Linked DNA regions of Homo sapiens. The protein of the gene in region 5 interacts with the protein of the main gene of each other region in a biochemical or structural test. Each region holds a gene or a part of one and is shown on either strand. Other genes may lie near its edges. The genes, in order: UBE2Z, UBE2J2, UBE2D4, UBE2S, UBA1, UBE2E2 and UBE2N.

The links.
Region 1: of the proteins of UBA1 (region 5) and UBE2Z, one has a biochemical effect on the other in vitro, tested with the Homo sapiens proteins (3 studies listed by BioGRID).
Region 2: of the proteins of UBA1 (region 5) and UBE2J2, one has a biochemical effect on the other in vitro, tested with the Homo sapiens proteins (2 studies listed by BioGRID).
Region 3: of the proteins of UBA1 (region 5) and UBE2D4, one has a biochemical effect on the other in vitro, tested with the Homo sapiens proteins (4 studies listed by BioGRID).
Region 4: of the proteins of UBA1 (region 5) and UBE2S, one has a biochemical effect on the other in vitro, tested with the Homo sapiens proteins (8 studies listed by BioGRID, with this or other methods).
Region 6: of the proteins of UBA1 (region 5) and UBE2E2, one has a biochemical effect on the other in vitro, tested with the Homo sapiens proteins (4 studies listed by BioGRID, with this or other methods).
Region 7: of the proteins of UBA1 (region 5) and UBE2N, one has a biochemical effect on the other in vitro, tested with the Homo sapiens proteins (10 studies listed by BioGRID, with this or other methods).

The regions. Positions count from the first base shown.
Region 1 is NC_000017.11:48,911,407-48,914,906, forward strand, and holds part of UBE2Z (ubiquitin-conjugating enzyme E2 Z), read left to right. Parts: intron 1-1,427; coding exon 1,428-1,615; intron 1,616-3,500. UniProt on the Homo sapiens protein: Catalyzes the covalent attachment of ubiquitin to other proteins. Specific substrate for UBA6, not charged with ubiquitin by UBE1. May be involved in apoptosis regulation.
Region 2 is NC_000001.11:1,260,355-1,263,854, reverse strand, and holds part of UBE2J2 (ubiquitin-conjugating enzyme E2 J2), read left to right. Parts: intron 1-468; coding exon 469-509; intron 510-1,464; exon of another isoform or gene 1,465-1,570; coding exon of another isoform or gene 1,571-1,586; intron 1,587-3,500. UniProt on the Homo sapiens protein: Catalyzes the covalent attachment of ubiquitin to other proteins. Seems to function in the selective degradation of misfolded membrane proteins from the endoplasmic reticulum (ERAD).
Region 3 is NC_000007.14:43,932,936-43,936,435, forward strand, and holds part of UBE2D4 (ubiquitin-conjugating enzyme E2 D4), read left to right. Parts: intron 1-3,500. UniProt on the Homo sapiens protein: Accepts ubiquitin from the E1 complex and catalyzes its covalent attachment to other proteins. In vitro able to promote polyubiquitination using all 7 ubiquitin Lys residues, but may prefer 'Lys-11' and 'Lys-48'-linked polyubiquitination.
Region 4 is NC_000019.10:55,402,017-55,404,788, reverse strand, and holds part of UBE2S (ubiquitin-conjugating enzyme E2 S), read left to right. Parts: intron 1-310; coding exon 311-501; intron 502-641; coding exon of another isoform or gene 642-788; exon of another isoform or gene 789-826; intron 827-1,446; exon of another isoform or gene 1,447-1,657; coding exon of another isoform or gene 1,658-1,846; intron 1,847-2,131; exon of another isoform or gene 2,132-2,199; intron 2,200-2,772. Other genes in the region: RPL28 (large ribosomal subunit protein eL28), read right to left, coding at 1,658-1,846. UniProt on the Homo sapiens protein: Accepts ubiquitin from the E1 complex and catalyzes its covalent attachment to other proteins. Catalyzes 'Lys-11'-linked polyubiquitination.
Region 5 is NC_000023.11:47,213,229-47,215,628, forward strand, and holds the end of UBA1 (ubiquitin-like modifier-activating enzyme 1), read left to right. Parts: intron 1-1,098; coding exon 1,099-1,200; intron 1,201-1,308; coding exon 1,309-1,409; intron 1,410-1,565; coding exon 1,566-1,701; 3' UTR 1,702-1,900; downstream 1,901-2,400. UniProt on the Homo sapiens protein: Catalyzes the first step in ubiquitin conjugation to mark cellular proteins for degradation through the ubiquitin-proteasome system.
Region 6 is NC_000003.12:23,496,827-23,500,326, forward strand, and holds part of UBE2E2 (ubiquitin-conjugating enzyme E2 E2), read left to right. Parts: intron 1-2,781; coding exon 2,782-2,914; intron 2,915-3,500.
Region 7 is NC_000012.12:93,435,448-93,438,947, reverse strand, and holds part of UBE2N (ubiquitin-conjugating enzyme E2 N), read left to right. Parts: intron 1-3,500. UniProt on the Homo sapiens protein: The UBE2V1-UBE2N and UBE2V2-UBE2N heterodimers catalyze the synthesis of non-canonical 'Lys-63'-linked polyubiquitin chains. This type of polyubiquitination does not lead to protein degradation by the proteasome.

The DNA.
Region 1 (3,500 bases), on a different chromosome or scaffold from region 5:
CCTCCTCTCAGAGAGAAAGCTTAATACATAATGTCACATTTCTCTGGCATAGATACCTAGGTTTCTCTGTCACTGAATGCTCTACCCACAGAAGTGCAGTTGCACTTAAACTGATGTTAGAAAGAAATCATATTTCCTAAACCTAATGCTGTTTAAGTGAAACACATAGTTTTCTTACAGTAAATTTCTTACAGTAAAAATTCAGATTTTGTATTGTTGGTGTATCTTTTTTTGTTGTTTTGAATAGATTTCCCTTCATATTTTTTTTTTATGTAGTTAGAAATGTTTTTCCTAGGACATCTCGTCCTCAGTCAAGTACCAGTGTTAATAGCCTAGTACCTGGGGTCCCAGAGTTGATGCCATGTTGAGACCAGTTGAGTTTACTATTCCAAATGACTGAGAGCCAGAATATGACGTAGGGTCTTGCCAGGAGGGCAAGGTGGGAACTATAGACTTAGGCATTGGATTGCCACGTCCCTTTCCTTTTGCTGTTCAAATGCTTAGCAGACCTAAATGCCTAGGAGCCTTTGTGGAAGAAGAAATATAACTGAGTCAGTTCAGGTTTTCCTCCCTTCAGGGGGGGAAATCCTGTTGAAGAATTATGGCTTGAGGGGGAAGAGAATTTAGTGTCGTTTTCAGGACGGCTGATTTTTTTTTTTTTTTTTTTTTTAAACAGTATTGGGGAAAGTTCTGGGACTGGTCTAATGGCTCTGAGTGGACCCTGAGTCTTCCCCATTTTCAGTCATGATGTGCTGCCTGAGCCACATCCTCCACAATAGGTTTGATCCTCTGCAGAGGAAGCAAGCAGATACCCTAGGCATCCATCACACCCCCTAACCCTGCTGTGTTACTGGCACTGGGCTGTGGCCTCCAATCCCTTTCTTCGTCTCCTTTCATCATACTTTCCCTTCGTGCCACATAAATGTAGGGTGGGGTTGCATCATATGCATGTTTGGCCTGGGCAAATCCAAACATATATTCAGTCAAAATCTGTGTCGATTTCTCAAAATTAAAAACGCTAGGGTTATATTTTATAGATAAGCATATTATATTTTTCCACAGTGGTGTTTTATCCATTATATGTAACACTGATCAGGGAGGTCTGCACAAAAAAAAAAAATGCTTTAAGAGAGTTTTAGGGGATACTCAAGAGTGATTTTGACTAGATTCAGTTTTCGCCTTGGGCTCTAACTTTAGAAGTAACCCCTGAGTAAGATGTCATTCCACTGTAATGAGATTTCTTAAAATTCCAAACCTACGTATTAGTATGAGTGAATACAGGATGTTCCTTCTGCATGGTGAGGATATAGAACATGTGTACCAGATTATGGACTCTGCTTCTGGTGTGGGTAGTAGGTGGAGGGTAGCCAGGAGGGCTTGGGGTGGGTCATCACCTCACAATTTTGAGATGGGGTTTTATTTTGCAGATTCATGCATTGATCACAGGCCCATTTGACACTCCTTATGAAGGGGGTTTCTTCCTGTTCGTGTTTCGGTGTCCGCCCGACTATCCCATCCACCCACCTCGGGTCAAACTGATGACAACGGGCAATAACACAGTGAGGTTTAACCCCAACTTCTACCGCAATGGGAAAGTCTGCTTGAGTATTCTAGGGTAAGAGGAGACTTTTAAGTAGCCAAGTCGGTTGTTAGCAGATAATTACTCTAGGTCAGCCTTTATCAACCGGAGTCCCTCATCTGAACTACAGAACACAGAAAATGATTGAGTGACTCTTCTCAAATCTCCTCAGGATGGTATGTGACTAGTATCATTCTAGATGCAGAGGGGAGAAGTTAATTTATTACAGTGGTAACCTTTGAGAAGTGGTTCTCTTAAGAGTGTGGCCCTGAGCATCTGGGAACTTGTAGCCGAGCAGTTTCTGGGGCCCTATCTTAGACCTACAAAAGAAACTCTGGGGTTGGGGCCAAAAATCTGGTTTTTTTGGTTGTTGTTTTTTGTTTGTTTTGAGACGGAGTCTTGCTCTGTCGCCAGGCTGGAGTGCAGTGGCACGATCTTGGCTCACTGCAACCTCTGCCTCCCAGATTCAAGCGATTCTCCTGCCTCAGTCTCCCAAGTAGCTGGGGCTACAGGCGTGCACCACCACACCTAGCTAATTTTTGTATCTTTAGTAGAGACGGAGTTTCACCATGTTGGCCAGGATGGTCTCGATCTCTTGACCTCATCATCCACTCACCTTGGCCTCCCAAAGTGCTGGGATTAGAGGCATGAGCCACCGTGCCCGGCCCAGAAATCTGTTTTTTACAAGCTCTCCAGATGATTGTGGTGCATACTGCAGTTTCAGAACCACTCTCTTGGGGTGTTAAGGCCTTATTTTCTCTCCTGAACAGGTTGAGAAAGGCTGCAGGTCTGTGCCATTCAAGATTTGGGGTGTCTTAATTTGAGTCTTGCAATAAGTTGCTTTGAAGGCAGTGGCGGTGGTGGTGGTGGTGATCATTATGGTTTCATTTTTGTTTTGTTTTGTTTGTTTTTGTTTTGTTTTGTTTTGTTGGTAGAGGCAGGTATCTCACTATGTTGCCCAGGCTGGTCTTGAATTCTTGTCCTCAAGCAGTCGTCCTCTTGTGGCTCCCAAAGCACTGGGGTTACAGGCATGAGCCTCCATGCCTGACCTGATTATAATATTTTAATAATGACAAATGTCTGAGATTGGAAATCACATTAGATATGAAATGAGTTTCTAGTGCATCTTCTTTCTGGATGCTTCTGAGGTTTTGCTTCATAGAGTTCCCATTTTAGTTGCCTTTGGGGGCTGAAAACTCAGTGTGGACATCTTCTCGCATATTTTGGATTGGTGTTTTTATAGTGGTCTGAACTTCTCTGGGACAGAGAACACGTGCAGGTTGAAGTTGAGAAAGTACCCCCAAACTGATTATTCTGTTTTCCTGCTATCCAACATGTTTCCAGGTTTGTGTGAGGGAAGAGCAGCATTTGAAATAAACTTAGAGACATGATTCATTTTTCTAGGACTTGCTCAGACCCAGGGATATGTTCTGCTGTGATTTTGGCAGTGAAGAAGTCTTTTAAAGGAGGTTGTCCTTAAAGAAGTACTTCATCTCGTTAGGGTACTTAATTAATTGTCTTTGCTGGTAGGCTAAAACCCATGATGATAAAGAAATTTAGTCGTTGCTTCTGTATGAAATTTGTTCGCGAAAGCGTGTCTCAAAGTAGGCTCTCCCTCATTGGGTCAATATAAAACTCTTTTGAGATACCAGCCACAGGACAGTGGGGTAAAAGTAGTAGAAGTGTGTTAGGTAGAAAAGGAGAAGCTGCCCTGAAATTGAAAATTTGCCATAAAGAATCACAGAGTAGAAAATTTCAGCCGGGTGCGGTGGCTCACACCTGTAATCCCAGCACTTTGGGAGGCCGAGGCGGGTGGATCACCTGAGGTCAGGAGTTCGAGACCAGCCTAGCCTGGCGAAACCCCGTCTCTACTAAAAATACAAAAATTAGCCAGGCATGGTGGCGCATGCCTCTAGTCCCA
Region 2 (3,500 bases), on a different chromosome or scaffold from region 5:
CACCCGGCTAACTTTTTTTTTTTAAATAAAGGTGGGGTCTTGCTATGTTGCCTAGGCTGGTGTCAAGCTCCTGGGCTCAAGCGATCTTCCACCGTGCCCTCCCAAAGTGCTGGGATTACAGTCTTCAAGTACATCTTAGTAATGTACTGTGAAATTAAAATTTATTTAAGATTTCAGTTATTATTAAGATGAGCTTCGTGCATGTTATATTGTCGAAACAAAGGTACTTTATGGTAAACTTATAAAGTATAGTCTCTAAGATCCTGTTACAAGAGACTAAAAGCACCCACGGTAGAAGAGACGGGGGTTTTGAAGCCGTGTGGCTGTGTGACATTTCACCTTCATTTGTTCACTGCCTGAATGTGAATGTAATTTTGGCTGGGTTCTATAAACCCCAGGCTTGGAATGATTCAGATTTTGGAGAATTTGCTGTCCTCAAATCCCAAGTAATTTTCTTCTCTCCCTTAGGCACTATGTCGTCCGAGGCCCAGAGATGACCCCTTATGAAGGTAAGGATTCTGTGCTTAGGAGAAGAACACCAGGCGGTTTTTATATTCTCAGTCAGCCTTGCCTGTTCAACATCTTTTATTTGCAAACAGCAGCCTTTCTACTTTGGATGTGTGCTAGTTAAATTGGCTTAGTTGGAACTCCTCCTCGTCTGCTTCTCCACACGCTGGAAGTGTTTGCTCTGCTGATGTGTCTCAGCCTGCAGGGCCGCCTGTAGCGTCTGTGTTCACCAGCCTCTGACACCATAGGGCCATAGCTGAGAAAACCAGACCGGGGTAAACACTGAAGCTGGCCTGTTCTACTATTTCTTAAGACCCAGTGCATATCATCAAAGGAAAGGCACATATATTCAGTTATTCAGTGTGCCTTCTGTGCTGGGCGCCCCCAGGGTTTCGCAATCCCCAGGACGGTCTCTGAGCTAAGTGGAAGTACCCCTGTGTGGTGGCACCTGGGGCTTCGGTAGGCTGCAGGACCTGTCCAGCACCTCAGCCCTTCATCGACTACCAAGGCTGATCCAGCAGCCTGACCCCTCCAGGTCAGCAGACACCACCTAGAGACCTAGTGTCATTTATAGAGAAGATGCTGGAGCTGTCAGTAAGTTTCTGGGGCCTTTGGCGGAGGCTGGCGCCAGCCTCGATCTGGACCAGGTCAGTAGTCAGTGTGCCCGTGAATACTGTCCCGCCGGCAAGCACAAGGCAGAGCAGGGCCAGGTCAGCAGTTGCTGTCCAGCCACAGGGCCCCGGCTTCAGGTGGCTGGAGCAGCAGGCTCTGTTTGCCTGTGTGTGGAGGCTTTGGATGAGATTTCACTAGAAGAGAGTGCTGCTGCTAGAAGAAGGTTTGCAACCCCTGCTTTGGACTGTCGGGAGGGTTGTGGGTGGGTAAGAATGAAAAAGGCTCTCCTGAAGGCATTTTGGCCGAGTTAACACAGCCACACCTGTGGACTCTCCTTTGGCCCAGGAATCCCAGTTCTGGATCATCTGCAACTAGGGCAGCCAGAGTGCGGGAGTACATCTGTAGGGTGGGCCCTCCATCATCGTGTCATTGCCCATGACCAGCGTTGGGGATGCCAGCAGGCCGTGGTGAGATAAGGCCCGGGAGCAGGTGTCCAGGGCGTGTTAAAGTACTTGTTACGATGCGTGTGTGTGCCTTCAGCTGATCTGAAGAATATATACCACCGAGTGAGTAGTGGTCGGCCGGGCGCGGTGGCTCACGCCTGTAATTCCAGCACTTTGGGAGGCTGAGGTGGGCGGATCATCTGAGGTCAGGAGTTCGAGACCAGCCTGACCAACACGGAGAAACCCCATCTCTACTAAAAATACAAAATTAGCCGGGTGTGGTAGTGCATGCCTATAATCCCAGCTACTCGGGAGGCTGAGGCAGGAGAATCACTTGAACCCGGGAGGCGGAGGTTGCAGTGAGCCGAGGTCGTGCCGTTGTATTCCAGCCTGGGTGACAAGAGTGAAACTCGTCAGGAGATCCAGACCATCCTTGCTAATACGGTGAAACCTTGTCTCTACTAAAAAAATACAAAAAATTAGCTGGGCGTGGTGGTGGGGCCCTGTAGTCCCAGCTACTCAGGAGGCTGAGGCAGGAGAATCGCTTGAACCCAGGAGGCGGAGCTTGCAGTGAGCCGAGATCGCTGCACTCCACCCTGGGTGACAAGATCAAAACTCCATCTCAAAAAAAAAAAAAAAAACCAAAATGGGTGGTGGTCTTTGACAAGCAAAATTATGCCAGCTTTACATTTTTTTTGTTTGTTTTGTGGTTTTAGTTTTTTAAAAATAAATAGTGAATATTAATTCTGTATCCACACCCAGTCTCCCTCAACTTCACCAGCTAGGTCAGTTGCTGGTGGAGATGAGCTGCTCCCCCAACAGGGCTGGACACAGTTGGGAGAAGAGGGGGCAGCCCCTGGGTGTGGTGCGGCCGTTGCCAGCCCCAACCCTGTCACTTGTGCTTTTATCTTGGTCCCCTCCCATCGCTTCCGTTGTTCCCCACAACCGTGTGTGGCTCTGTGCTGGTCCTGGGTCTCAGGAAAGCCTCCCTTCAGAGAGAGAATGTGTGTTCCTACTGCCCCTCCCATTTCCCTCTATGGCACTGCTGCTCCCGTCCCCGCGGACCTCCCCCTCACTGGGGGATGCCTTTTGCTCTCTGCAGCCCTGCCCTCTGCTCTCCTTCAGGGTCTCCAGGGAACCCCTCCGAATTGCCACTTGCCGAGGGGCTGTTCTCAGTCCTCAGTTTCTTAGCCTCTGGTATCTGATGCTGCTGACGACAGCTTCCTTCCTGACTTCGGGATTTCTGACCCCTTTTCCTGCCTGTGCATTAGCTGCGTCCCCTCCGTGCACTGGGTTCCGTGGCTGTTCTGCCCCTGGTGCTGCCCAGGCGTGCCCACTCTGACAGTTCAGAGCTGGCTTCCTACAAATGTTGCTAAATCATTCCCCTTGAGTGAATCTGTAGATTTCACACAGTCCTAACAAAATCTCAGTTTTTTATACTACACAAGCTACATGCAAAGGCAAAGGACCTAGAACAGTTAAAACCATTTTTCTAAAGAATGAAGTGGAGTCTGTGGTTTCAAGACTTACCCCAGTGATGAGGGTCAGGCAGTGGTAGAGGAGGGACAGGCCATGGGGCAGAGTAGCCAGCTAGGCCTTTGCCTCAGGCTTTTCAGCAGATGGCCTGGGGTGTGGGGATGTTCAAGCTGCCAGGGACCCACTTCAGGACAAGTGGGTGCTTCCTGATTTTCATCTGGTGCTGTGAACGTCTGTGTGTGTGTGGCTCTTGGTGCCTTTGTCTTGGGTTTCTCTGGCGGGTGACAAGCAGTGGGATAGCCGTCTGGGGCTTCCCGATAGGTGTGCGCGCAGTGAGGCAGCAGGGCGCCCGTCTCCCATCCCGACAGGTGTGCGCACGCAGTGAGGCAGCAGGGTGTCCATCTCCCAGCACCCTCTGCGCTCAACTGGCTGTTTCCTGCCGTGTAAGTCACTCTTGCCCAT
Region 3 (3,500 bases), on a different chromosome or scaffold from region 5:
TGGAATGTGTGCCATCCAGTTCCCCTCCTGGGGGCAACAAATGTTAAAGTATATATATATATATATATATATATATATACACACACATATATATACACATATGTATGTGTGTATATATATAACATATATACACACATATATATACACATATGTATGTGTGTATATATATAACATATATACTTATATGTGTGTATATACATATACGTACATATATATGTGTGGGTGTATATATATATATATTCTACCTATTCATGTAATTGTAGTTAACATTTTTGTGGATTTCTTTTCAGTGCCTTTGATGTGTATGTGTTTCAGATTGTTGTCATGTAGTGCATCAAATTTTATACTCTGCTTTTTTCTTGCCCTTTTCCTCTAATGTTGTATCATGACATTTTCTCCTGTTATTCTGTAGTCTTTAAAAACTAATTTTCAGTGGCTGCATAATACTTGGTTTAGTTTCTCAAAAAAAAGTTTAGTTAACTTCTGATTATAAAGGTAGTAATTGTTCTTTAAAGAAACTTGGGGCTGGGCGTGGTGGCTCAGGCCTGTAATCCCAGCACTTTGGGAGGCTGAGGCAGGAGGATCGCTTGAGGTCAGGAGTTTGAGACCAGCCTGGCCAACATGGTGAAACTCATCTCTACTACAAATACAAAAATTAGCTGGGCATGGTGGTGCGTTCCTGTAATCAGTCCCAGCTACTCTGGAGGGTGAGACACCAGAATTGCTTGAACCCAGTAGGCAGAGGTTGCAGTGAGCCGAGATGGTGCCAGTGTACTCCAGTCTGGGCAACACAGTGAGACCCTGTCTCTAAAAATAAAAATAAAAAATAAAGAGAACTTGGAAATAAGATAATACCATATTCATCTACTTCAAGATGAATATTTTTTCAAATGTTCACGTCTCTGAAATTGGGATGCTTCTTACAATAGCTGTCAGCCAGGTTACCTTCACTTAGATGTCACTATCTGTATGAGTAAACCATCATGGCAGTTCATTATGAGGTAAGTGCATTGCTGGTACTATATTTGTTGAGTTTAATTGTTTTAAAAATATTTTCAAAAAGATAGTGTGATTTAGCACTGAAAAGAAAAGCTTTTGTGAACACAGGCACAGAAACAGGACAACGACGAGTAAATTTCATAATAAGGGAGCAAATATTTGTTGTTGGAGGAAGGACTGGAATTTCCTAATTCCATGTCAAGCAACCAAATTCTTCATAGCCACAGAAAGGAAGGTACCACCTACCCTCAAGTTGGTGAGACTGGGTCATTTTTTTTTTTCTGGAATACGTGCAAATAGATTGTGTATCATGGGCCTTTGCAGAATAAGTATTCATGGCTTGAAAGAAAACTCCAGGAAGAGTAGTAGAGGACTCTAAGAATTGCCACATTACCATTGTTTTGGAAGACACAGAGGATGATATTGTGTAGACATCAATGACTCAGTGTTGGGCTCTGAATGGGAAGAAACTTTAGGAATACCTGAACAAACCAGTTTATTTATTTCACTTGTTTTTCCTTTTTTTTTTTTTTGTATTCATGAATGATACTTAACAAGAAACACACAAAGCTATGTTTAAGCCTAAAATAATTCTTTTGATAAAAGTAATTTTAATTTTTTAATTTTTTGAAACAGAATCTCACTCTGTCACACAGGCGCAGTCTTGGCTCACTGCAACCTCCACCTCCCGGGCTAAAGCAATTCTTTTTTTTTTTTCCCACAAGAAGAAAAAGTACATTTTATTTAATGACCAAGTACACACACACATTCACACACATGCATATGTACATATAACTAAAAAAAATATTTTTTCTCATCACATGGGATGCATTGTGAAATATTCTACATTCTTTCATTTAAAGAAAAATGCTGGTCACGTTTTAGTAAAAATCTTTCACAAATCACTAATATGTTACAATGCATAACTGCTCTAGAGCATTAACAATGCTAAGCTATAATTTTAGGGAAATATATAGTGGTGCTCCTTCTTAGAATTAGCCCATGTGGTATTTTAGGTACTCAACTCAGGGAAAAAAAAAATGTAACATAGCCTTGTTACCATGTATTCAGCCTGGACATGGTACATGCTTTCAGTGAGCTTAAATCACCTATCTTCCTAGGCCCAAGATCTGAGGGAATGACTTCCAACTACGTAACAGGACCCTTTGTCTGTATTATACATTTTATATGTCTTTTTATGTACATTGTTTCACTTGTTCCTCACAACAACCCTGTGAGGTAGGGAGGGGAAAATATCAGTTACGCTTTATAGATAATGAAGTTAAGGTTCAGAGAGGTTAAGTGACTTTCTCAGTTACCTAGTAAAAGGCAGAGACAGAATAAGAACTATTAACTTTTAGGTTGGGGGCCCTTTTCTCTAAACCACATAGCTTTGGAGAGTATATTCTAACCCAAAATATTTTTACTGCTTCATCCTCATTTTCTTATTATTAATTCAACTTTTTACAGAATACCATAAAAGACCTAATTCTAAATTCATCATGCTAAATTTATGCTTCTCTGTAAACTTATGGCCACAGAATACATATTTTTTTTTTTGGAAAGCACTGTCACTTTGGCCCTAAAGGAACATAAGCAATATAAAGGGCCCCAGAGGCCAAGGAAATTGAAGAGAAGTCAGAAGAAGGGATATAAAATGGAATGTGTTAACGGATTTTAGTCCCTTTAAGTTTGCACTTTTGTGAGAGGGTTCAATGGAGAGCTTTAATGCAGATGAGACTTGAAGCTTTTGAAGAAGATCTAAGTCTTGATGAGGTTATTCAAACTCAGATCTTGAACGCATAATGATGATAGGCCATGGTCTTCAAAAACGTGGTACTTGATGCTCTCCCACAGTGCCAGGACTGGAATGTCACAATACATATAGATTCATGTTTTTGTCCATTAATGGTCTGTGGGTTTCTTTAAATGAAGCCCATTTTAGAGTCCATAGATATCAGTGTTCTGCGAAACTGTTGGGGATTGGAGGCTCCCAAAAGACCCCAGATGCTCTGCCCTGCCCATGGCATCACCCTCTAAAGCGATTCTTGTGCCTCAGCCTCCTGAGTAGCTGGTTATAGGCACATGCCACCAAGCCCAGCTAAGTTTTGTATTTGTAGTAGAGACAGGGTTTCACCATGTTGGCCAAACTGGTCTCGAACTCCTGACATCAGGCGATCTGCCTACCTCGGCCTCCCAAAGTGCTGGGATTACCGGCATGAACCACTGTACACAGCCTGATAAAAGTAATTTTTAAATACAATTAAAGTTTATGTGCAAAGAAAGCATTTGTGTTAGTTTATTTGCCAGCATGTTTTTTTTTTCCTAATTGTATGTAAAGTAAAATTGTGTCTTATAAAGGATGGAGTCTTGGAGTTGACGAAACACCGTAAAGGAATAACTGAGTGTGTACCATGGTTTGCTTAACTCTTCTCTACTACTATTCAATACTTTAACTTACTTTCTCTTTTTCGGAACTTCTCACTTTTATCATTGTTACT
Region 4 (2,772 bases), on a different chromosome or scaffold from region 5:
TCTTAAAATAAAAAAGTAGCCAGACCTGGTGGCATGCCCGTAATCCCAGCTACTTGGCAGGCTGAGATGGGATCACCTGAGCCCAGGAATTGCAGGCGGCAGTGAACTGAGATTGTGCCACTGCACTCCAGCCTGGGTGACACAAGAGACCTTATTTCAAAAAAAGAAAAAAAGAATCCTCCAGTCTGTTGGCAGAGTTGGCGGGGCACCCACCTGCATCACAATCAGACCGTGGAGACTGGACTTTGGGGTGTTGAGGTGCCTTGGGACTCCTGAGTGCCCTGACCCTGTACCCCTCCCTCCACTCCAGAGGGGACCCCATATGCTGGAGGTCTGTTCCGCATGAAACTCCTGCTGGGGAAGGACTTCCCTGCCTCCCCACCCAAGGGCTACTTCCTGACCAAGATCTTCCACCCGAACGTGGGCGCCAATGGCGAGATCTGCGTCAACGTGCTCAAGAGGGACTGGACGGCTGAGCTGGGCATCCGACACGTACTGCTGGTGAGTTCTGGGCTGGGGCTGGGCCTCCTGCCTCCTGCCTCTGGAGGTCTGCTGGTGTCTGAGCCATAGCGCTTTGTTTAGTTTTTCTGAATCAACTCTGAAGTGGTTGAAGGTTTCCACATAAAAATCCATGTTGCTAGCTTTCCTGGAAAGACAAACAGTGCCAGACCCAGGACACCCAAGTACTGTTGAGAAGTGCCCAGGAGCACCTTACTATGCAACGAGTGGTGAGTTTGTATTGTAGGATGGTTTTTCTCTTCTCCCTTTTTTTTAAAAAACAAGGATAGGGTAGGCCAGGTGTGGTGGATCACTTGAGCTCAGGAGTTCGAGACCAGCCTGGCCAACATGGTGAAACCCTGTCTCTACTAAAAATGCAAAAATTAGCCGGGCATGGTGGCACATGCCTGTAATCCCAGCTACTTGGGAGGCTGAGGCAGGAGAATCGCTTGAGCCTGGGAGGCAGAGGTTGCAGTGAGCCGAGATCGCGCCACTGCACTCCAGCCTGGGTGACAGAGTGAGACTCTATCTCAAAAAAAAAAAAAAAATAAGATAAAAAATAAAACAGGAATGGGGTCTCATTTGTTGCCCAGGCTGGTGTCAAACTCCTGAACTCAAGTGATCCTCCCACCTCGGCCTCCCAAAGTGCTGGGCTTATAGGAGCCAGCCACTGCGCCTACCCTGTAGGACAGTTTTCTGACAGGTGGAGGTCAAGGGTCTAGTTAGAAGCTCTTTCTTTCTTTTCTTTCTTCTTTCTTTCCTTTTTCTTTCTTCCCTTTCTTTCCTTTCTTTCTTTTTGTTTTAAAGATACTGGCTCTTTGTTGCCCAGGCTGGAGTGCAGTGGCGCAGTCATAGCTCACTGTAGCCTTGAACTCCTGGGCTCAGGTGATCTTCCTGCCTCAGCTTCCTGAATGGCTGGTATTACACGCATGCACCACCATACCCAGCTAGTTTTTATATTTTTATGGTTTGCAGAGATGGGGTCTCATTAGAGGCTTTTTTGCTAAAGCTGAGCTTACATGCCGTAAAACTCAGTTCCAAAGTATACAGTTCAGTGGTTTTTTAATAGCGATAGGGTTCATAAACCAGTGTTTCTCAGCCAGAGGTGATTTTGCCCCCCAAGGGGTATTATGCATTGTCAGGAGACCAGAAAGGGTTGTCACAACTCGGGGGTGCCACTAGCATCTAGTGGGTGGAGGCCAAGGGTGCTGCCCAAATCCTGCAGCGTACGAGATGGCTCCATGACACAGAATGACCTGGCTGCGGTGTTGCTGAGGTGGAGGCGTCCTGGTCTAGGCTGGTGCTCCAGGCTGCTTACAGCCTGCTGCCTCCCAACCCTTCCCGCAAGCTGAAAAAAAAAAAAGTTAACCAAATTTCTAATGAGTCCCTGGGGCACATGGCAGAGAGGGTGGGGAATTGGGGTTTCCTGCCATGGGGAGGGAGAGGATTGAGCTCCAAGGTAAACAGACCCCAAACCCTTCCCTCCCACATGTACCGCCTCCCTTCCCCTGGGGTGTCATTGGAGGCTGCTGGGGACATTGGCACCGAGCTCCAGGCCTACTTGCTGCTAGGTCAGCATCTGGGCCTGTCAGGGGCTCAGCCAGCAAGAAGAGCAGCCAGACCTGCAGTTTGGGTGCAGTGATGAGAATTAGGGTGGGAACCTGTGTCCTGGTCACCATCAGTGATATCTGCTGAGCATCTGCTGAGCCAGGTACTGTGTATGTGTCATAGTGGCCCCAGGGAGCAAACTGCTGTGGCCAGTTTGCCCAGACCCACTTCAGAGGATCCAGCTGGGGCTGCTGGAGGCCTGGCTGCAGGTCACACCTCTGCACTCCAATTTACCCCTCAGGACGGGCTGTGAAGGGGGTTGAGAGGAATCTCTGGACCACCCTCGAAGTGCACCTCAGCCAGCAGTCCTGGTGTCTTGCCCTCTTGTGTGTGGTCCAACCCAGCTAGAGTCTTAGGCTGTGAACTTCGGATGTCTGATAAAAGACAGAGGTCAGGATTTATGCTGTATCTGGAAAGATGGGGAGCTTTAGAGTCCAACACGCAGGTGTGATTTCCTCAAATCCTGAGGCCCTGGGGAAGTCTCTTCTCTCTGTCCAGGCTGCAGGCCTCACTCGTTGAACCAGAGGGCCTCTAAGGTCATGCTGAACTGCATGGAGGCAAATTCAAAACCATAATAGGACTCAAGTCTGGGGCTCAGGCAAGTAATGGACTCCTGAGAGGGGGCCTTGGCGTTTCCCCCGTTACCCAGCAAGTTCCACGGAGGAC
Region 5 (2,400 bases):
AGATCTGGTTCTGATTCACGTCATACCCTGTCACCAGGTGAGGGTTTCTGTCTGTGTACCTACCCTTTTTGTGTATCCTTTTTCACTTATTCATTAATCACATTATTTGAGTACGTGCGAAAAGATGGGATATTTGAATTGTGCCCTGGGAGATTATTAGTAACTACACAATAATGGCAGCCAAAATTTATTGGACGCTTCCTACACTTAAGTGCTTTGCTTGCTTCATTAATGAATTCACTCAAATATTTATTGAGCACCTTTTGTGTGCAGGGACTCTTCTAAGTTATGTTCCTCAAGTAGATTATATAAATAACCTATTAAATGATTTTGGAATCAAAAAAGGATAAAAAGAGGCCGGGCGTGGTGGCTTACGCCTGTAATCCCAGCACTTTGGGAGGCCGAGGCACGTGGTTCACCTGAAGTCAGGAGTTTGAGACCAGCCTGGCCAACATGATGAAACCCTGTCTCTACTAAAAATACAAAAAATTAGCCAGGCGTAGTGGTAGGCACCTGTAATCCCAGCTACTCGGGAGGCTGAGGCAAGAGAATCACTTGAACCCGGGAGGCGGAGGTTGCAGTGAGCCAAGATGGCGCCATTGCACTCCCGCCTGGGTGACAGAGCGAGACTGCATCTCAAAAAAAAAAAAAGATAAAGAGGACTTGAGAATACCAGGGGGCGAGGGGATGTATTTGAGATTTTGTGTAGGATGGTCAGAAAAGGCCTTGCTGAAAAGATGACATTTGAGATCAGACTTGGAGGATGTAAGGGGACAAACTGTGCAGGCTTGGTGGCGAGTGGGGACACATTCCAGGCAGAGGGACCAGTTCTTGAAAGGGTACCAAGATAGGGGTGTGCCTGGCAAGTTGGAGGAATTCAAAGTCCCCAGAGTGAGTGTGAGATTGAGGAGGGTAGGAGATGAGAAGAAAACAGAATTTCATTGCTTAGGGTGAGATAGGAACCACAAGAGGATTTCGAACAAAAGAGGGTTGTGATCTGACTAAACACGTCTGCATGGGGGTAGGGGGGATGGAGACAGATGGGGGCTGGACCCTCTGGGATGGTCTCCATCTTACACTCCCCTCTTTGTCTTGCAGTACTATAACCAAGAGTGGACATTGTGGGATCGCTTTGAGGTACAAGGGCTGCAGCCTAATGGTGAGGAGATGACCCTCAAACAGTTCCTCGACTATTTTAAGGTAAGGCCCCTCCCTTACTCTGTCACCCCACCTCAGGGGGCGAGGTGTACACGGTGACTTGCTGGCCTGTCCACCTCCATGACCCTGCTGTTCCCCCTCCCTCTCCAGACAGAGCACAAATTAGAGATCACCATGCTGTCCCAGGGCGTGTCCATGCTCTATTCCTTCTTCATGCCAGCTGCCAAGCTCAAGGAACGGTTGGATCAGCCGTGAGTTGGACACTGGCCAGGCTAGGGGAGGCCCTGTATGGGTTGGGGAGCCTCATCATCCAGCTGTCCCACTCCAGTTCACTGCCCCTACCTACCTGCCCATCCTCTCTTGCTTTCTGCCCTCCTGACCCTATACTCCCATCCCCCTATCCCCAGGATGACAGAGATTGTGAGCCGTGTGTCGAAGCGAAAGCTGGGCCGCCACGTGCGGGCGCTGGTGCTTGAGCTGTGCTGTAACGACGAGAGCGGCGAGGATGTCGAGGTTCCCTATGTCCGATACACCATCCGCTGACCCCGTCTGCTCCTCTAGGCTGGCCCCTTGTCCACCCCTCTCCACACCCCTTCCAGCCCAGGGTTCCCATTTGGCTTCTGGCAGTGGCCCAACTAGCCAAGTCTGGTGTTCCCTCATCATCCCCCTACCTGAACCCCTCTTGCCACTGCCTTCTACCTTGTTTGAAACCTGAATCCTAATAAAGAATTAATAACTCCCACATCGCCTGCCCTGCTGGTTCCAGGGAAGGAAGGGACTTCCTGGAGCTGTCTGGTTCAGATGATAACTCAGAGGGCTCAACCCCACCACACCTGCCAGTTTTCTGGACAAAGAAAATGTAATTGCCACCTCTTCCTGCCCTCTCTGCCTAGGAAGAGATGGAGGCACCAGTGAGGCCATAGTGAGCAGGTACTTGGGTCCATGTGACTGTTAATTTGAGCTGGGTTCAATTCTCACCTTCTCCATGTCCTAACTCCTTGCTCTGTGAAGAGGAAAGTTACGGTGACCAGGCTGCTAGGGCATGGCCAGCGTGCCTTATGTCCTTAGGGCAGATCCCCTCCCACCTGGCTCAAAGCACTCAGACCCTGGGCAGCCTTTTGTGGTCATGGTTCCCAGCACCAGGAATGCCTGTGCTGCTCTTAGTTCAATTTCCTTGCTGCAGGGGTGTCTTAAACAGCTCTGCCGAATGCCAGTGCCTGCAGGCATACTTCGTGATTTTTA
Region 6 (3,500 bases), on a different chromosome or scaffold from region 5:
ACAACTCAGGGTTTAGAGGTACCAGCCCCCTGTGCCATCAAAAATTCATGTATAATGTTTGACTTTCTCCAAATTTAACTACTAATAATACCCTACTTTTGACAAGAAGCCTTACTCATAACATAAACATTTCAATTAATACATATTTTGCATGTTATATGTATATATGCTGTATTCTTACAATAAAGTAAGCTAGAAAAAAGAAAATATTAAGAAAGTCATAAGGAAGAGAAAATGCATTTACAGTATTGTACCGTGTTTATTGTTACCCTGAGTTTACATCATCTGTTTACAAGGTGAAATGGCAGCTAACCACAACTACAGACCTCAATCTACAGTGTATATCAAGTAATTCAACTTTTTCTTGTAATGGCATGACTTTTCTCTGCTTCTTGGGACTACTTCCAGAATCACTAGTGGCCCTTCGTATGGATCCCATGGTGTTATTTAAGGTTTACGGTATTGCACAAACACAATGAAAAATATGCGAGAACTGAGAGAGAGCACTTTTTATGGCAATACGCAATTTGCTGGAGAGATGAACTGCTCATGCAGAGATGATTTTTGTCACGTGGCATTTTAGGCATTTTAAGCAGCTATTGGCAATAGCTGAGTTCATTGCAATAGCAACAGGAGGTGGCTACAAAATTATTACAGTAGTACAGTATGTATTATAGTTACTTTTATGCAGTTATGATTTAATACTCTATGTTTGTGTTTGCTTACATTTCTTTTAAAATGCTCATGGCATCATGTATGGTTTGTGGGTATAATTTTAACTTTGTAAGAGATCGGTATATATTTTCTGGTAGTAAATAAGAAAAACTAATATCTGTGTATATTTTGTGCACTCATGACGTTCCTTTTTCTTAATTTTTCAATATTTCTAGGCTAGTGCGTTGTCAGCGAGTTTTTTCAAATTGTCACAAATCTCAAATTTTTCTAATGTATTTTCTTGAAATTTAGTTCATCTAAGTTGACCCACGCAATGCAGACCCTGTTGTTCAGGGGTCAACTGTATATTCAACTTAACTAGATGAGCCTATATTCTCATCCGAAGGAATTACTCATACTCATCAGCAGTACATAGGAGTTCTAGTTTTTCCACATCCTCATCAACATGTGGTTTTGTCAGGCATTGATTTTTGCATTTGCATTTTGTAAAATAATATTACTGAATTTTGATTTTCAGTTTCATTTCCCCGATTTTGATGATATTGAGCATTTTTCATATGATTATTGGCCATTTATGTTTCCCTTTTTTTGGAAATGTCTATGTCTTTTTTAATAGAGTCTTTTTTTAGTTGATTCTTAGGAACTTGTGTATTCTCAACACTAGTATTTGGTCACTTTTATATGATCCAAATATCTTTTCTGTTTGCAGCTTGCCTTGTCACTCTCTTCAGTCAAACTCTAATATTTTGACTTTTGCATTTAAATATTTAATCCATCTGCAACAGCATTTGTTTATTTACTGAGGGTAAAAATCCAGTTTCTCTGTTTTTCAAATATAAAAACTTTTCCTAGTCCCATCAGTTGACATAAATCAGGTTTTCATATATGTGTGGAAAAGTTTGAGGAATTTCTTTGAGCTTCCGAAAAAATTTTAAAATCAACTTGTCGAGTTTTGGTTTTAAAAAGCAGTTGGACTTTTTAATTGGAATTATGATGAATCAATTTGGAGAAACTGACATTTGATATCAGGTCTCCCTACCCATAAACTTGGTATCTCCCTCCATTTATTTAACTCTTATGAGTACTTTTCAATAAGTTTTATATAATTTTCTCCATAAAGATCTTACACATCTTTTATGACTTTATTCATAGCTTCCCTACAAGACCTATTGCAACTCATTTAAAAATACATTTTCTAGGGGCCAGGTGTGGTCCAGTGATGCATGCCTGTAAACCCAGCTACTTGAGAGGCTGAGACCCAAGAATGGCTTGAGCCCATTCTTAGGATTAGCTAAATCCTAATCTCATTTTGCCCTTCTTTTCACCTGAGAGAACTAATACAATTCACTCGACTCATGTGGGCCATATTGTTTTCAGCAAAATTCTCTGAAACTCAGAGACATGTGTACTGCTAGTAGCCATGTGGCTTCTTCACTTGCTTTGTTATTAATTCATCATCATCCAACATACTGACTTAAGAGGCACTAAGGACAAGGTACAACCTGTTCCTCAAGCACCTTCTAGGGAGGGTAGAAAGAAGCATTAGTTGCAAAACACAGTTATAAAACAAAATGATACATCTTATCCTCTACAGACCTCATTGGTCATGATGTATGGGTCAGGAAGTCCTTTGGGTGGGGAGAAAGAAAGGAAGATTCAGATGGGATATGATATTTGAGCAGAGACTTTGGATGATGAACATTGAACCTCCTTTGTGTTCTCAGTTGTTAGCAAAGGGATCAGACTAGTCATTCCCCAGAGGTCCTTCTAACTTTGAAATTTTGTCTCTGACATCACAAATAATTTCATGCTTTCATTAAACATTTGTGTTTCTACCTCTGGCCTGTAGTCCTTGGACTCTTGTTCCATAGGCGTAGGGTTGTGAATGGCAAAAGAGGATCTTGGTGTTCTTTTATGAAGTGATACCAACATATTTCACTTCTAGGATAATGACAATATTGGCAATATGAATCTTAACATGAGAGTTAACTGATTAACTTTTTGTGTTTTTATGGAATTGCTCAATTGGTTATCATAAATAGATTTTGTTAAATTCCAGCCTTTATGTAATTTCTAAGCACATTTCATTTGTATGTCTTATTTCAGTGCTGGACCCAAAGGAGACAACATTTATGAATGGAGGTCAACTATATTGGGACCCCCAGGATCTGTCTATGAAGGAGGGGTGTTCTTTCTTGACATTACCTTTTCACCAGACTATCCGTTTAAACCCCCTAAGGTCAGTATGAAGTTTTCATTGATTTTTAGCAATATGGATTATATTTCTAGATACATATACTTATTCTTAAATATGCATTCTAGGGATGCATGTCTATTCTGTTGTCACAGACAGCTTCCCAGGATTGATAGTGTATAAAATGAAACAATGTAAAAAATTGTAGGTTATTCCTCCACCCCAGCTTTTTACTGATTTCATTGTTTTTTTTCTCCTCCTTTTTCTCCTCATTATCTCCTTTCTTTGTTATATGTTTTAATGTAACATTAAAACACCATGTTTTATGGGTGAAAATGGGGGCATAAGGTTGGGCCAGGGTGAGTACCAGAGCCCAGAAAATCAGACGTAGCCTGGAGCCAGAGCCCAAGCAAGCTAAGCGCAAGAATCAGGCTAAAGGCAGAGGAAGCCTTGCCTAGGCAAGGTTTATAGCACCAGCTATGGAGGTTTGAGTTTTGGTGCCTCTAGAGTTCAGCTGCTCACATGTAGCACACATGGACTAGTATGGAAAGTATGACCCACAGAGACTTAAAAGTTGTGTTAAAAAATTTCGTAAAGTATTTATAATAGTTCATTAATGAAACTAATCAAT
Region 7 (3,500 bases), on a different chromosome or scaffold from region 5:
GAGGCAGAATTTGGATCTTGATTAGTGTAACATTCCCCTGTCTCTTGTTACTGTAAAATGACTAACTACAAATACAAGATGATTTTCTGGACTACTATTCACCCAGTTGCTATCTCATTTAGATTCCTGTATCTAATCCAGTAGCAAATTCTGTAGGTTCTGCTTTCAATATATGTACTAAATCAGACACTTTCCCCCCTGTCTTTCAAACCTCTGTTCACTTCCATCATTTACTGCCTGGCCTCCTGTATTAGCCTACTTTGGAGCAGCAGCTAGTGTTATCTTCTTAAAATATAGACCATGTTACTCCCCTGCTAAAAACTGTAGAGGTTCTCCATCACACTTACATTAGAATCTTGCCTTCCCCCCCACCCCTTAGCTATAAGGCCCTGCATTCATTTGGGATGCCTACTTCTGAGCGCATCTGCACTTCTCTCTCTGGGTCACTCCACTGTAGCCACACTGTTGCTTTGCTGTACCCTGAACAATAAGTGGTTGAGCTTATTCCAGTCACAGGACTTTCCTCCAGTTTGTTGCATTGCTTGCTTTGTCCAGTTGTTCCGTTCTTAGCTCATATGTCATACCCTCTACCTAACCTGTCCCGTATAAACCAGTTTCCCTTTTTCCTCCCCCACAATTTTATCCTCCTATCTCCCTTTCTTCTGTATAAGTGCTTATTACTGTTCGAAGTTATGTTATTTACTGTTTATTTCTCTCTATTCCCCATTAAACCTTCATGAAGTTAGGGACTCTTGGATATCCCGGGCATTGCTCATTCGTGCCTAGACCAATCCTTGGCACATAGTAGATACTGAAATATTAATAGACTAACTGAATAGATGAGCCTTAATCTCAATGAGCAATAATTTGACATTGTTACTCCTTGGTATATTCTGTCTGAACCAATGTCTGAGCTAAAAGTTAAAGCTAGTCTCGTTTTCCACCCATAAGCTCACTTAAAAAGGACATCAATCTTTTACATTATTTCTTTTTTGTGTGCCTACTCTGCTTATGTATCTTTTTTTATTAACTAGGAAATGCACACATAGAGCACATTTGAAAGGCTCTGAAGGATACGTAGAGAATCCCTCATCTGTCCTTCAGCATTCCAGTTCCCCTGCTTAGAAAACCACTGTTTTTGTTTGTTTGTTTGTTTGTTGAGACGGAGTCTCCCCCTGTTGCCCAGGCTGGAGTGCAGTGGTGCAATTTTGGCTCACTGCAAACTCCACCTCCCAGGTTCAAGTGATTCTCCTGCCTCAGTCTCTTAAGTAGCTGAGACTGCAGGCATGTGCCACCACACCTGGCTAATTTTTAGTAGAGATGGGGTTTCACCATGTTGGCCATGCTGGTCTCAAACTCCTCTTCTCAAGTGATCCACCTGCCTCAGCCTCCCAAAGTGCTAGGATTACAGGTGTGAGCCACTGCACCCGACTTCAACCACTATTTTTATTGTGTATCCTTACAAGAAGACCAGAGCAACTTTCTGCTATAAGTTAGGCGTCTTCTCCTTCTCATGCAAATACCTTGATTCCCTTCTCTTCCCCTCTAACCACCTATGTATCTTCAAGTTGACTTTTTTTTTTTTTTAAGAGACAGACTGCTGCTTTGTTGCCCAGGCTGGAGTGCAGTGGCTTTTCACAGGCGTGATCATAGTACACTATATACATACAGCCTCGAATTCCTAATATCAGGTGATCTCTACCTTCAGCCTCCAGTATCTGGGATTACAGACATGCATCATAGTGTTCTGCTTTGGCTCTTTTTTTTTTCTCAAAGGGCTGTTTAATGGAACCTTATGGTTAGACTTTATTTTATTTTTTCAAATATTGGAAATTTAATACTTTTTCAGTAGAGATGGGGTCTTGCCATGTTGCCTAGGCTGTTCTCGAGCTCCTAGGCTCAAGTGATTCTTCCACCTCGGCCTCCCAAAGTGCTAGGGTTAACAGGCATGAACCACCGTGCCTGGCCTAGACTTTATTGTAACTAATTGCTTATTCATAACTTTCAGAATGTTTCCTAAATTGTGCTATATAAAAAATGCTGTAACGAAGTTTTGTATGTATGGCATTTTGCACAAGTGTGAGTGATATTGAGTCTTAGTAGTTCTGTTTTAAGCTAGAATCTTTAGTTTCGTTTTTCTGCCTTATCTTCTGGACCAAAGCTCTTTTAGCCAATAAAAGTGACTGAAGCTGGGCATGGTGGTTCACACCTGTAATAACAGCTCTTTGGGAGACTGAGGCCCAAGGATTGCTTGAAGCCAGGAGTTGAGACCAGCCTGAGGAACATAGTGAGATCTCCATCTCCACCAAAAAAAAAAAAGTGAGCAGTTAAAGCTTAAAGTCATAAAGGTTAGGAGGTACCTAAAATGTCCCTCAAATGAGAGGTTCTGCATAATCCTGTCATAAAGGAGAATCACTTTCGGGAACCGATAAGTGAGATCTATAGTTATGGCCTTGGTCAAAACCAAATCTGTTTCAGCTTTACATGTTACGTTGATACAGTGACTGACATTCCTTTAATGGTCTTTTCAGAATTAATCATGAGGGCTGAGCACTGTGGCTCATGCCTATAATCTCAGTACTTTGGGAGGCTGAGGCGGGAGGATCCCCTGAGCCCAAGGTTTCAAGACTGGGCTGTACAACATAATGAGACCTTGTCTCTACAAAAAGATAAAATGAAAATTAGCCAGGTGTTGTGGCACACATCTGTAGTCCCAGCTACTCAGGAGACAGGTGGGAGGATTGGTTTGGCCCAGGAAGTTGAGGCTGCAGTGAGCCTAGATCGCGCCACTGCACTCCAGCCTGGGCGACAGAGTGAAACCCTGTCTCAAAATAGTAATAATGATAATAATGAAAATGATAAAATACAGTCTTGGGAAAAAGTAGTTAACTTACCCTAGGGGTTGACTTATTTGATTAAAACCTAGTGAGTCAACCTGCTGGAATTAGAATTTTACCAGTCTTTCGCAGAATTTACTTTATGTCTCCCTTCCCCACTGGTCCCTTGTCTATGGTGCTTAAAAATTTACTTAAGAAAATACATTTAATTAATTTTTTGAAACAGGGTCTCTGTCACCCAGGCTGAAGTGCAGTGGAAAAATTTACTCTTCTATTTGGTGTGATTTAGCCTCAAATTCTTAAAAATCAGATACAGTCTGATTTTACATTGAGACTTGAGTTTACTTTTTTAATAGGATTTTTTGAAGTACACACATTTTTTCCTGTTACTGTTTAAAAGCCACTCATTTGATAGGTATTCTAGTGCATAAGGTATTTTTTTTTGTAAGAAAAGTGATTTAGAAAACTCACCTTTTATTTATTTGAGACGGGAGTCTTGCTTTGTTGCCCAGCCTGGAGTGCAATGGCACAATCTCGGCTTACTACAACCTCTGCCTCCCAGGTTCAAGCAGTTCTCCTGCCTCAGCCACTGGAGTAGCTTTACTCTCTGCCTTGAACATTTTTTTTTTCTTATTTTGAGATGAAGTTTTGCTTTTGTTGCCC